Linked DNA regions of Homo sapiens: region 2 is linked to region 1. Evidence: fine-mapped expression QTL. Tissue or cell type: nucleus accumbens. Region 1 holds a variant in brackets; the other region holds the start of a gene. All regions are shown on one strand. Distances are from middle to middle.

What was found. PIP is the estimated chance that this variant, and not a neighbour inherited with it, causes the effect. A credible set is the group of variants that fine-mapping cannot tell apart.
Region 2: it holds the start of LINC03000, and the variant in region 1 is the best candidate, but not a certain one, in a credible set for the expression of LINC03000 in nucleus accumbens (GTEx, PIP 0.71).

The regions. Positions count from the first base shown.
Region 1 is chr5:164,760,338-164,766,753 of GRCh38, forward strand. All of the region lies in intron 3 of LINC03000 (long intergenic non-protein coding RNA 3000), which reads left to right. Among named protein-coding and RNA genes, the nearest start is that of LINC02143, 300 kb to the left of the region's middle. The variant G/A (reference allele first, on the strand shown) is at 3,486.
Region 2 is chr5:164,294,161-164,300,576 of GRCh38, forward strand. It overlaps LINC03000 (long intergenic non-protein coding RNA 3000), which reads left to right and starts at 2,545. Exons shown (of 5, transcript XR_001742489.2): 1 at 2,545-3,036.

The DNA of each region.
Region 1 (6,416 bases):
TTCTGTCAGGGTATATGCTGCAGGGTAGAATGAAACCTGAAGCTGGGTTAAATAATTGGGTTCTTGTTCAATAAAAGTGCTTGTTTGTGCTGTGTAATGAAAGATCTTTGGTGCATTGGATGTCTGAATCCAAATACCCTTCGGATTTTCTGATGGATAAAGAGATAATGGTGAAAGGGATTTAATTTAGAACTATTGAAAAACTTTAAAAAGATTAGAAAAATTGGTAAATGCACTTTCTTTTTTAAAATCCAGATTCTTTGTTACTTATCAGGAACTCTTATATTTTTTAAGTTGACAATAAAACTGTTTTGTTGGTTTTGTTTTTGTTGCTTTTTTTTCTTTTTTGATCTGTTTGCCATCATTAACTGACCTTTGAGATTCAGGTTATGAAGAAGATAATGGAGAAGGTGTTATCTCCTAGCCCATGTACCTTAACCTGAATTTAGGCAGTGTTATTGCCTTTGGGTCTCATTGGATTGTCACATCTAAGCTGTGGGCAGAGCATTGGTGAATGGAACAAACTGCATGTCTTGCTTCAAGTGATGCTTTTTTCCCCATTAAGTCAATACTCCAGTACATCTAAGCTTCCGTTAAAAAAAATCAACATTTAAACCAGCTTTTTTCTTTAAGAGCACACCAAAAACATTTCTAATCCAGAAAATTGATGTGACAATCAGAATGCTATGCATGTGCAGTGGTGGGTGGAATTTGATGAAATACATTAATATCAGCAGTAAAATCATTCATGTGCAGCGTTGTCTCAGCTAATTTTAAGCAAAGATTATTTGAATCTATTTACTTTATTCAGGATAAAATTATATTAGAAAATGAAAAGTAAAGACTTTTCTTTTCCTTCTCCTCATATTATTAACACCTGATTAAATAAAAGGCTTTATTTGGAAAAAAAAAGTCATGGATTTCACAACTCCAAGGAAACAGTGAAGGGAACCCACAACGTGTACGGGGTATGAAAAACAAGCCATTGACTGAGCAGCATCTGTATTTAAGCTCCTTACACCATGTAGCACTTTCAATGGGTTTTAATCCCTGGTGCAAATCATATACTTCTTTGCCCACTGAGCCTCATTTCATATCTGGCACACCATACTCTATAACCCTTCCTTTACTGAGTAATCTACTTTTCCACACTTCATCTACCTCTGCTTTTCTGGGTTTCTCTCTCCTTCCCTCCCTTTTCTCCTGTGATGTTAGAAAACATACTAAGATCAATTTGGGAGTCAGGAGTCAGAGTTCTAAGAGATAGTTGTCTAGCAAGCCACGTGAAACAGCAGAGCTAGGAAGTAAGCACATGGGGTTGAAGCCTCTAGACTGGGCAATAGAGATATAGAGTGAGACTCTGTCTCAGAAAAACAAAACAAGTTACCCTCAGTTCAAGGTTTCATTTTGTCTTAATTAGACTATTGAAATTATCTTTCAAGATCCTTCTTGCAAATTCCAGTAGACTTCTCGTCTTCTGCTGGCCAGGTATCTTGCTCAGTATTCCTATATTACTCTTTTTTATTTATCCAATCAATTATGAATGTCTTATTTTGGCACTCAAGATTGTCCTTAGTGGCCGGGCATGGTGGCTCATGCCTGTAATCCCAGCACTTTGGGAGGCCGAGGTGGGCAGATCACCTGAGGTCAGGAGTTCAAGACCAGCCTGGTCAACATGGCGAAACCCCATGTCTACTAAAAATACAAAAATTAGCTGGGAATGGTGGCAAGCACCTGTAATCCCAGCTACTTGGGAGGCTGAGACAGGAGAAGTGCTTGAACCCAGGATGTGGAGGTTGCAGTGCCGAAATTGTGCCACTGCCCTCTAGACTGGGCGATAGAGATATAGAGTGAGACTCTGTCTCAGAAAAAGAAGTTACCCTCAGTTCAAGGTTTCATTTTGTCTTAATTAGACTATTGAAATTATTTTTCAAGATCATTCTTGCAAATTCCAGTAGACTTCTCATCTTCTGCTGGCCAGGTATCTTGCTCAGTATTCCTATATTACTCTTTTTTATTTATCCAATCAATTATGAATGTCTTATTTTGGCACTCAAGATTGTCCTTAGTGTCTGGGCATGGTGGCTCATGCCTGTAATCCCAGCACTTTGGGAGGCCGAGGTGGGCAGATCACCTGAGGTCAGGAGTTCAAGACCAGCCTGGTCAAGGTGGCGAAACCCCATTTTACTAAAAGTAAAAAATTAGCCCAGCATGGTGGTGTGCACCTGTAATCCTACCTACTTGGGAGGCTGAGGCAGGAGAATCACTTGAACCAGGGAGGTGGAGGTTGCAGTGAGCCGAGATCACGCCACTGCACTCCAGCCTGGACAGCAATAGCAAGACTCCTTCTCTCCTTCTCAAAAAAAAAAAAAAAAAAAAAAAAAAAAATTATTCTCCTTAGCTAGACCCAATATTTGAGTATTTAATTTTCTTTCTTGACCTTTACATGCTTCAATCTCTAGTCTCTAATTAAATTATATACATTAATAGAGTATTCAAGGCCTCACCCATGACGTTCAGTCAACATGGATTGCTTTTGTGATTAACAGATTTGCTACAGTTCTACTCATTTATCAAGACTTAGTTTAAATGACATTTCATCCATATTTTTTTTTCTCATTTATACTCTTCCCATTGTTCCCTACTCATTACCAACTACCAACATAGAGACACCATCATAATTAATTGCTAGTTTTTTCTGTGTTTGTTCCTGTGTCACTGAAAATGCACAGCACCTTATAACATATTTATTCAAATGTGTAACCACCCAATGGGTTCACCTTGCCCACTGCCTAGACAGAGCCAATTTATCAAGACAGGGAGATTGCAATAGAGAGAGAGTAATTCACACAGAGCTGGCTGTGCGGGAGACTGGAGTTTTATCATTACGCAAATCAGTCTCCAGAGCATTTGGGGATCAGAGTTTTTAAGGATAATTTAGTGGGTAGGAACTTGGTTGGAGATGGAATCCTAGTAGTGTCAAAGTGAGTTTTTCTTGCTGTTTTCTGTTCCTGGGTGGGATCACAGAACTTGTTGAGCCAGATTAGCCATCTGGTGGTGTCAGCTGGTGCACTGGAATGCAGCGTCTGCAAAATATCTCAAGCAGTGATCTTAGATATGACAACAGTGATGTTACTCCCAAGAGTAATTTGGAGAGACTCAGACTCTTGCAGCCAGTGGCTGCATGGCCCCTAAACTGTAATTTCTAATCTTGTAGCTAAATTGTTAGTCCTACAAAGGCACATTGGCCCCCATTCAAGAAGAGTTCTATTTTTTTTTTTTTTTCTTTCGGGAAAGGGCTATGATCAGTTTTGTTTCAGAGTCAAACCATAAACTAAATTCCTTCCCAAGGTTAGTTTGGCCTACACCCAGGAATGAATAAGGACAGCTTAAAGTTTAGAAGCAAGATGGAGTTGGTTAGGTCTGATCTCTTTCACTGTCATAATTTTCTCAATTCTAATTTTTGAAAATGCGGTTTCAGATGC[G/A]TATCTGTCATGAACCATGTTATAGGAACAGTCTCTTTTAGCTCCTGATGTGCTCACTACTCTAAATAACTGTAGATTTATTAAACCCTTTAAATACTTATTGTAGAGAATACAGATAAATAAAGTGTTTTTCTTACATTTATTTTTTAAAGGGCCTTGTTAGATTATTGGAAAAAAACATTTTATTAAGAATGTATTCAATGCCTTCTATAGATGAACTTACATTCTGTCATGAAAAAAAACAACATCTATTTTCAAAGGCAGAACATTTTCAGTTTTTTGTTAATAATGAGAAATACTTTAACTTCCTATTTTTTAGTCAGAAGTGGAACAGTATTATTTATCATGCATTGATTTGTTGTCTCTGAACTTACAAATGTGGTTTGGCTACTTACAGTCAGTGTAAGATGTTATATATCTTCAGCGTTGCTGATGAGGCCGATTAGAATAACACTGTTGGGAACTCTTAGGTGGCAAAAGGGACATTTCATAGAGGTAATCATGGACATAAAAGAAGGATGATATGGAAAGATATAACATGGCTTTAAATGTACACTTTCTTCCAGCCCAGCTGAGGTCATACCATTCTGTACAGAAATCTATATAGAATCAAGTTCCAAAATTCTTACTCTGTGATGACGATTATACTTTGAAATGGTTTCTATTTATAACAGGAATCAACATCTGATCTAATGAATCCTAAATATGCTAGAACGATTTAAACATTTGGAAGCTGAAAAACTGAGGAGTATGAAAGACATGTAATCACTCTTTTCAGCTTTAGTTTGTATATAATGTAGTTAATGCTTATTATGAGTTTATTATAAATAATAATTTTCTTGTGTTATAAGTAAAGGAATACACAACTGATTATTTCTTTAGAATATAAAGTTAAAATAATTAACAAAATTGTCTTAGTACATTTATTCTGTATACAATTCAGAACAGCACAGAATCCACTGGTATGGAATGAAGATGTTTTATGATCCATATCATATTGCTGCAAAATAATTATTTAATGCTATCTAATCTTCAATCAAAATCACATTTGTTATTAATTTTTATTTATTGAAATATCTTTAATAGATTTTATATTATTATAAAATCATTAATAAAATAATTAATATTAATATTACTGATAAGTAATTGTCGAGGTAATGCAATTAAAACACTTAGCAAGCTGTGTTACACAAAGTAAGCTCTCAATAAATGTTTCTCATTGCTATTACCATTATTTATTTTAATGGCTGAATGCTATAGCATATAATTTATTTAACAGATCCCCTGTTAAAGGAAATTGCTCCTAAAATTCAAATTAATTTTTAATTAAGTTTTCCCAATTAAATTTCTGGATTTAATTGGGCTTATTGATTCAGGTTTTTTGGTGAATGAATATCATGTTCTATATTTTTCACATGATTTCTAGAAATCAGTACATACTATATACAAAAACTATTCTGAAACCAATTCTATTTTTGATGATTCAGTAATCACTCTAGTGTCTCATTTAGATTTTTTTGTTTGTTTGTTTGTTTTAGATGAAGTCTCACTCTGTCACCCAGGCTGGAGTGCAGTGGCGCCATCTTAGCTCACTGCAACCTTCGCCTCCTGAGTTCAAGCAATTCTCCTGCCTCAGCCTCCCAAATAGCTGGAATTATAGGCATGGGCCACCACGCCTGGCCAACTTTTGTATTTTTATTGGAAACGGGGTTTCACCATGTGGATCGGGCTGGTCTCAAATTCCCGACCTCAGGTGATCCACCCGCTTTGGCCTCCCAAAATGCTGGGATTACAGGTGTGAGCCACTGCGCCCAGCTAGGGTTCTAATTTTGACCTCTAGTTTCCATTGTGCTATTGATGTATGCAATCATTAATAATGTATTCTTACTGCCATAAACAATAATATAAAATGAATGTAAATAAGGAATAATTTGAAAATAATTTTTCTTAGCTGATGAAAATAGCTTTTTACAGGTGTTCCCTCAGAAATCCCAATTTTCTTAACTAGCAGATTCTATTGTTAATGTTTATATAGGTGTCACTGATACTTCCTTCACTTATTATATTTATCTCTCCCTCTGCTTCCAAGATGGTGCCTTGTTGCTGCCTTCTCGCATGGTGGAAGGCAGACACACAAAAAGGCATGATGATGTTCCCTTCAAACTCTTTTACATTTATTAGGGAGAAACCTAATGACCTCATCACTTCCCCAAAGACCCCCCCGCCCCCGCTTTAGTACTATACCATTGGGTATTAGGTTCCAACATATTAATTTTAGAAGGATGTTCTAAAATTCATTCAAATTTATTTTACTTCATTTAGTATATATTGACAAATCATCCTTAATAACTTAAAGACATATACCATTTGCTATGATAGGTGATCTATAAAATACTTATTTTAATTCATCTATTTATCTAATTATAAATATTTGCATCAAAATATGAGTTATTTTGAGAATTTGAGAATTTGAGAATTCAAATATCATGACAGAGTAAGTATATTTGATGGGATCATAGTTCTTACACTTAAGGAATAGGAAAAAATAAAATTAATGTTAATATACATAACAGTTCTTTCTCTTCTTTCTTGGAGATTTCTGTGAGTCAATAAACTTCTATTGTTGCTAATCAATTAAATTGCAATGAAAATATATTCATTTATTTTTCCAAGTGAGGAAGTTTTTCTTTATGGCAATCAATGCAATATTTTCTAGCTTTTGAAAGGTTTTTAGTCTTTTAAACTTTCCATGAACAATGTTATTGGTAGTTTATTGTCTTAATTTTACAGTTGTCATTTGTGTATAAGCAATTTTATGTACTGATACTGCCAATCTTCTCAGACTAGTTTATGTTATATTCATTCTTCATACATAGTTTTTTCTCTCCAGATACATTGTCGCTTTTATGAGCCTGGACATCAAACTTTTAA
Region 2 (6,416 bases), 470 kb before region 1:
AAAACCCTCACTGGAAGCCAGGGTCATGCCCTTGAACTTCTCAGCCTTCAGAACCTTGAGTTAAATAAACCTCTTTCTTTATAAATTACCCAGTCTCAGATGTTCTTTTATAGCAAGACAAAATAGACGAAGACAATGTGTGAATCCATTTCTCAATTCATAAGTGAATTGAGGTTATAATAATAATATACTCCTCATAAAGCTGTTGTGAAGATCACATGAGTTCATACATTATAAAAACTTAAAGGAGGATAGGGCATAGGGTAAACACACCCATGGGCAAATGTTAGCTATTAAAATACAACACTTATTATCACAGACTGAAGTGAGAGAAAGCTATACAGCATAGCTTATTATTCTAGTTAGATCCTGAGAGGTAATAAGTGTAACAAAAACAAGAAGCTATTTAAATCTGTTGAGCTTGTGATATGTCCCTGGCTCAACAACAAATTGGCTTTCTAATAATCCCAATGGAATGTCAATGAAAATTAAATTGTTAGAACCATTTTAAATAAATAAATTGAAAGTTTGAAAATCTGGAATATGTAGAAATTTAATATGCCCTTAATATTTCCTATTCTTAATTTAGAAAAATACGTATCGCCAAACCGTGGAGTTTCACACGTGATATTAGGACTGTGGACAAGGAATTATATACTAAATGCTAAAGAACAGTGTTTTTTAATGTACATTAAGAATGTTTTGGTTACTAACAGAAAAGCATATCAAAGTGACTTAAAAAGTGATGTAACACATTGGTGCGCATAACTAGAAGTTGAGTTCCTGTTGGCTCTAAAGTTGTTTAATCCAAACCTACATTGATTTCTTCAAATATCTAGTTTCTTTCTTTGTCTCCAATTTGTCATATTCATCTTAAAACTGGACCCTAACTCATTGATTCATCACTGAACAATTTTTCCTCCATTCCGTTTCACTGGGCCAGTGTAAGAAACTATGCTGTTCTTGAGCCAGTGACTATCAGCAAGTGAACATCATGCCCGAATTGGTTCAGGTCTGGGTTTATTAACCAATTACTTCCAAGTATGATGCTGTTACCATGATAGGCTTAGACTCAACAGGGTCTGCTGCCCAACATGAAATCATTTCCCTAAATTACACGGTACTTCGCAATGGAATAAAGGTGAAACGGATGCTGTGATATCACTTACGATATCCATCAATCTTACTATGGCAGACACTATTATTTCCCCCATATTCCCTTGTTTTCTTCTTTTTAAGTAAAAGGCTCTTCAGGTTTTTAGCCATATACATGGCCATTTCACATAGACACTCTATTTTCCAGTCTTCCAGTCTCATTTGCAGTAAGCTCTGGCCATATGGTTAATTTCTAGTCAAAAACATGTCATGTTCAACTTCCAAGGTATGTCCTTAAATAGGGAACATATTGTCCTCATTCTTCTCAGCTCCTGAAGTTTGAATACCAATTTAGTGGCTAAAGCTTGAGATACTATCTTGGAGTGTGTTGCTAATGGTGGAGCAACAAGGAGCCTAGTTCCTGATATCATGGAGCTCATATCTAGCCCTGGAACACTTAGCTGCAGACTTCATTTTCATCAGGGATAGAAATAAAGTTATATTTTAGTCTAGCAACTATTTACTTCAGGTGTTTTGGCATTCATGGAAAAGTCTCATCCTAACTTATACTTAATTATTTTACCAAATACTGTTGCCTACATTATATGATTGTGCTTTAAAAGTCTCATCGTTACAGTATACATTGATTAGGACCAGTATTTGAGAGTGTGCATCTCAAAGTTCTGTATCCATAGTTTAGTAACCACCTGTAGTTTTGTTAGCATGAAAACAACTTCTGACTCTCTTTATGCAAATACCTGTAGGCCATTATCTGCTAAATCTTTCTTAAATATGTGGTATATATTAGCCTACGTTTATTTGTCTATTAATACTTGCAAAAGCCACAGCAAAACATGATGTATATAAGTAGGATGATTTTTTGTTATCAAAACTGAATGATAGCTATAGGAAACCAGTGAGTACCATTAATTCACTCTGTTCAATTCTTTGCACTTACCTTCTTTCAGACTCGTTCATCAGTTTCACTTTAGTTTATCTCAGTTTCTATTTTTGGCACCTGTGAGATATGGATGCTTTTTGTTTGTTTGCTCACCTCTCCCCAACCCTCCCTACTCAGTCCCTCAGGAATACTGAGACTAGAGAAATTCATCTTCCCCTACCATGAAAACATTTTTCTGGGGCCTAACATACCTGATCTTTATCTTCCAAAGTTAGAAAATTCAGTTACTTTGGCGACAGCTTGGGAATGAGGTAGGTTCTCCAAGTTTAGCAGAGTAGAAAACTATCTAAAATAGTTTTGTTCAGGGTGTCCAGACATTTAATAAAACATTTTTTACCCACAGAAAATGTGGTCCCTTAGAGGAGAAGCAAGGTCCTGAGCCAAACTTTATAATGTACGTTCCTAGGAGGGAAAGCGAGGGAAATTCAGTCCACCGCTCTGCCTGCCTGCCTGCCTGCCTGCCTGCCTGAGGAGTTGCAGTGCAGAGTATCATTGCAGCGCTTTTCCAGGGAGTAACGTGCTGCACTGGTTCAGGGCTTTGTCTTTATTCACAACACATTCATGTGCCTCAGCATGGGGGCAGCTGCACTGTTGCCTGCCAGCCTGTCCTCTTTGACTGCCGAATGAACCAAAGGATAACTCTCCATTCGTGAGAGAGAGTGAGCTACAGAGGAAGAAAGACCACGCAAAAGGGAGGGGGAGAGAGGGGGGCGAAGAGGATGTTCTCCGGCTCACTCCTACATTAGGTCTCTGTGCAAAGGCAGAGGCTGTGGGAGCAGCATCAAGCAAGACTTCGGGCAGTGATTCTAACTATTGCCTATGAACACCGTGGCTGGGACGACTTTGACGAGGCAATTTATTACTTACGCATAGAACACTGGCTGTGCTGAAACTGGGAGCGCAAACAGCCCCTTGTTTTCTAATTTAGAGACTTGCATCTTTTCGACACTCAACAGTATCAAGACACTCTGCTACTACAGGTAAGACGCAGTTAAGATTTGTCTATTTGTGACATCATTACACTTTAACACACTTTAAACTATGAATACTTTTTTTATATTGTGCCTGGTCTATGTTGAACTGCCTTTTTCCCTTCATATTAGCCTCTCTTCAAGTAAATAATTTCACTAAGAAAAAACTGCTGTTAAATGAAGGAACCACTACTAAATCTTTGCTAAGAGGAATCTACATAATTGTATTTCCATGAGCTCTGAGTTCACAGTTGGGAACTTGAACTTAAACTGGGATCTGGGATGCATTTCATAATATATATATATATTTTTTTTTTCTAAATGTACTGAATTATTCACTATCATTTGGATAAGCCAAAATTATTCTCTTGCTACAGTGCTGTGCTGTGTATATGTTTAGTGGCTTTTTTTTTTTTTTTAAACCTCATAGTTTGGGGAAACTAATGATGAGGCACATAACTTGTGGAGTTTGATCACATCATTACCATGTGGTGTAATCTACTCAGTCAGAAAGATGTGCTGTTCTAGCCTTTACTGAGAAGGTGTTATCTTGTGTACATACATATATCATCAATAGGTAGCATGAACATGTGAAATATTTGTAAGACTAAGAGAAAATGCAAGGATGGTGATAATTCACATGCTGTATGATATCATTGAGTCTCGAGTTTGCTTTACATAAAAATTACAAAATTACCTTTGTTTTTATAACTGGTCTCCATCTTCACTTGTCAGTTTTTACAAAATAAAATTAGCTTTCAGGTGAGGTCACTCGGAGTTGTTGATATAGCTGGGAAAACTGTAATCACAGAAACATATTAATAATGTGTTGAATGTCTATAGAGATATAGGAGTAATATTATCAAGAGGCTTGTACAATTTTCCTCTGCTCTGTTTTGATAAGAGCATCTCATAGTATTAGTCACTTGTAACTTGGATTGATTCTGCTGTCCCATTCAGGGTCCCAATGACTTGGAAGTAAAATTACATTGTTGTCTGTGATCAAAGCTAAAAGCTAGGAAGATTTAATAATAAAGTCTTCTTTCCTTGACATTTTTGCTTAAATTTACCCGATCTAATATATATATTTTTCTATCCATGTGTGTCTGAGGTGTTCTTTCTATTAACCGTATTTTATATAAGAGCTGCTCCTATTTGAATTCCTACACCTGAACTATTTAATTGCTGATAATTGGGCATCATTAGATTGACCCTTGGATAGCTAATGGCTTTAACTTTGACATACAATAAAATATGTAGCATAAGATTAAAGCAGCTCCTAGCAGAGCACATGTTTAACAGTGAAGTATTGTGAAAATAGAACCATTTGCATTTAAAAATACATAATTCATTGGAAGACTTGTGATTCTTGTTCTTGTGCATGACTTATTTCATTTCCAATTTCACTTACAAAAGGTTTAAGTCCTTGGGGAATGTATGTAAAATATTCATTTGACTGAGGGTGTGAAAATTAAAGGAGGAATGAATTATTACTACAGTGACTTTTTTTTAGGAGTTTTTGAAAGTTAGTAACTGGCATGAATGTAAAAAATTAATTTGAGAGTCTCTCCTAGGGTACACCAAAAAAAAGCAAGAAAATGTTGATGTGAAATATATGTCAATATGCGAAATTACTCAGAAGATGAAAGGGAATGAAAATAGAAAAGAGAAGTTTTACAGTCTGTAAAAGGAAGAATATTTTCAGTAAACATAAACTCTATACTCTTTCTTTTATGACTGATAAGGAAACAAGGTATCAAGAATAGTATTTATCCAACATGAATGAAATCCCAGTGGCCACATATGAGGTGCAAAAATAAATGTTCTTTTTACTTAGTTAATAAATTTGAATATACAATTACTGAAATTGTATCTTGCATGAAATATTTATTGAAGTTATAAAGTTAGAAAAGTCACTGACAAACTATTTCAAAGTTTATTAATATTCATATTCTTTATTCATATGATTTATATGTTTTCCTTTCTTCCTAAGGAATGCGTATACTCAACACAATAGTATATGTGCTTTGTTTTGAAACTTTTCAACATTAGTTTTAAAATTACTTACTAAAAATCGTTCAGACCAGTCATCTCATTTCTCCAAAAAGAGACATATTCTAGATTTTCTTCTTGGATATACTACAAAAGCACTAACTTTATATTTATACACATTAAAGCAATATGCATTGTTTAATGATTTATAACATTCAGTATTATGTTTGTTTCTCCAAACTTTCTAGTTTTTCCAACTGTTAGAACTTTACAAATGTCTTATAAGAGTAAATTCATTATTACTATGATTTTCAGGGTCTTGGAGTTGTAAACTGTTTTAGACAGAACCTTTTAAAAATTATTGGAGTAGTCATCTCATTAATAACACTTTTAAGTATTTTTTCAACAATTACCTGATATATTTTGGCAAGAATATGTCCCTCCTCTCAATTTCTTTAGAATTTCAACTTTTCTACTAGAGAAAGTTTGGAAAACTTTTCTTTCAATGTCACTTTATGTTTGAACTAGATCAGAAGTTGTAAACTTATCTGGATCTTTAGTAATGTCAGATTAGATAATATAGTTATTGTAATACTCTTTTTGACATGGGGGAGTTTTCATGTGATGCAGAACGTATTAGCTAAGGTGGAATTTGGTTAAGTTAGTTTTGAGGCTTTGGATGATGTAACAAAAGTTAAAAACAAAATATTTCATTTCCTTGCTATCTGAGGGGATATAAACTCTGTCCTCTGCAAGCATACTGCATCAATTATTTATAATTTGTTGAAATAGATTTTGTTTTCATTGATGTGGTATTGGTCTACTGAAATGTTTCTTCTTGATTTTCAACAGGAATTTTATTTTTATATTTCTGGGGGTATTACGTGAGTCTTTCACTGGAATCACGAACAGTTCCTTTGAAAGTCTCAACAATGTAAAAAAAAGACTGTAATCTCCAGTCCTTTTTCATGATGATATTAATATTGAAGCATGAATAGAAATAGCTACAACTAAAAATTCTGAAATAACAAGCAAGAATAAGTAATGAGAGACCTCCAGCTAGTTTTCTGGCTCAGTTACTTCACTTAAATATCTTCTTAGACTGTGGTGTGGATCCTGGAAGTCAAAGCTTCTTGCTGATCTCAGTGACATAGAACTGGCAAGAAACAGCTTCCTCATGCTGCCTGTAGGCACCAGTCAACACTGACCCTTAGGAAGAATTTTTTGGACTGAAATAATTGTTGTATTTTAAGTTATCTACAAGTAAAATACAATAGCCTGTTCAAGTAAGTTAAGAATTATCATAATTGTAAAATGCTGATTGGCTGTTTTGAAGTCAGTTGCAGTATACATTTTAAAGGTCATATTTCAAAAGACTGAAATAGCCATAAACTTTG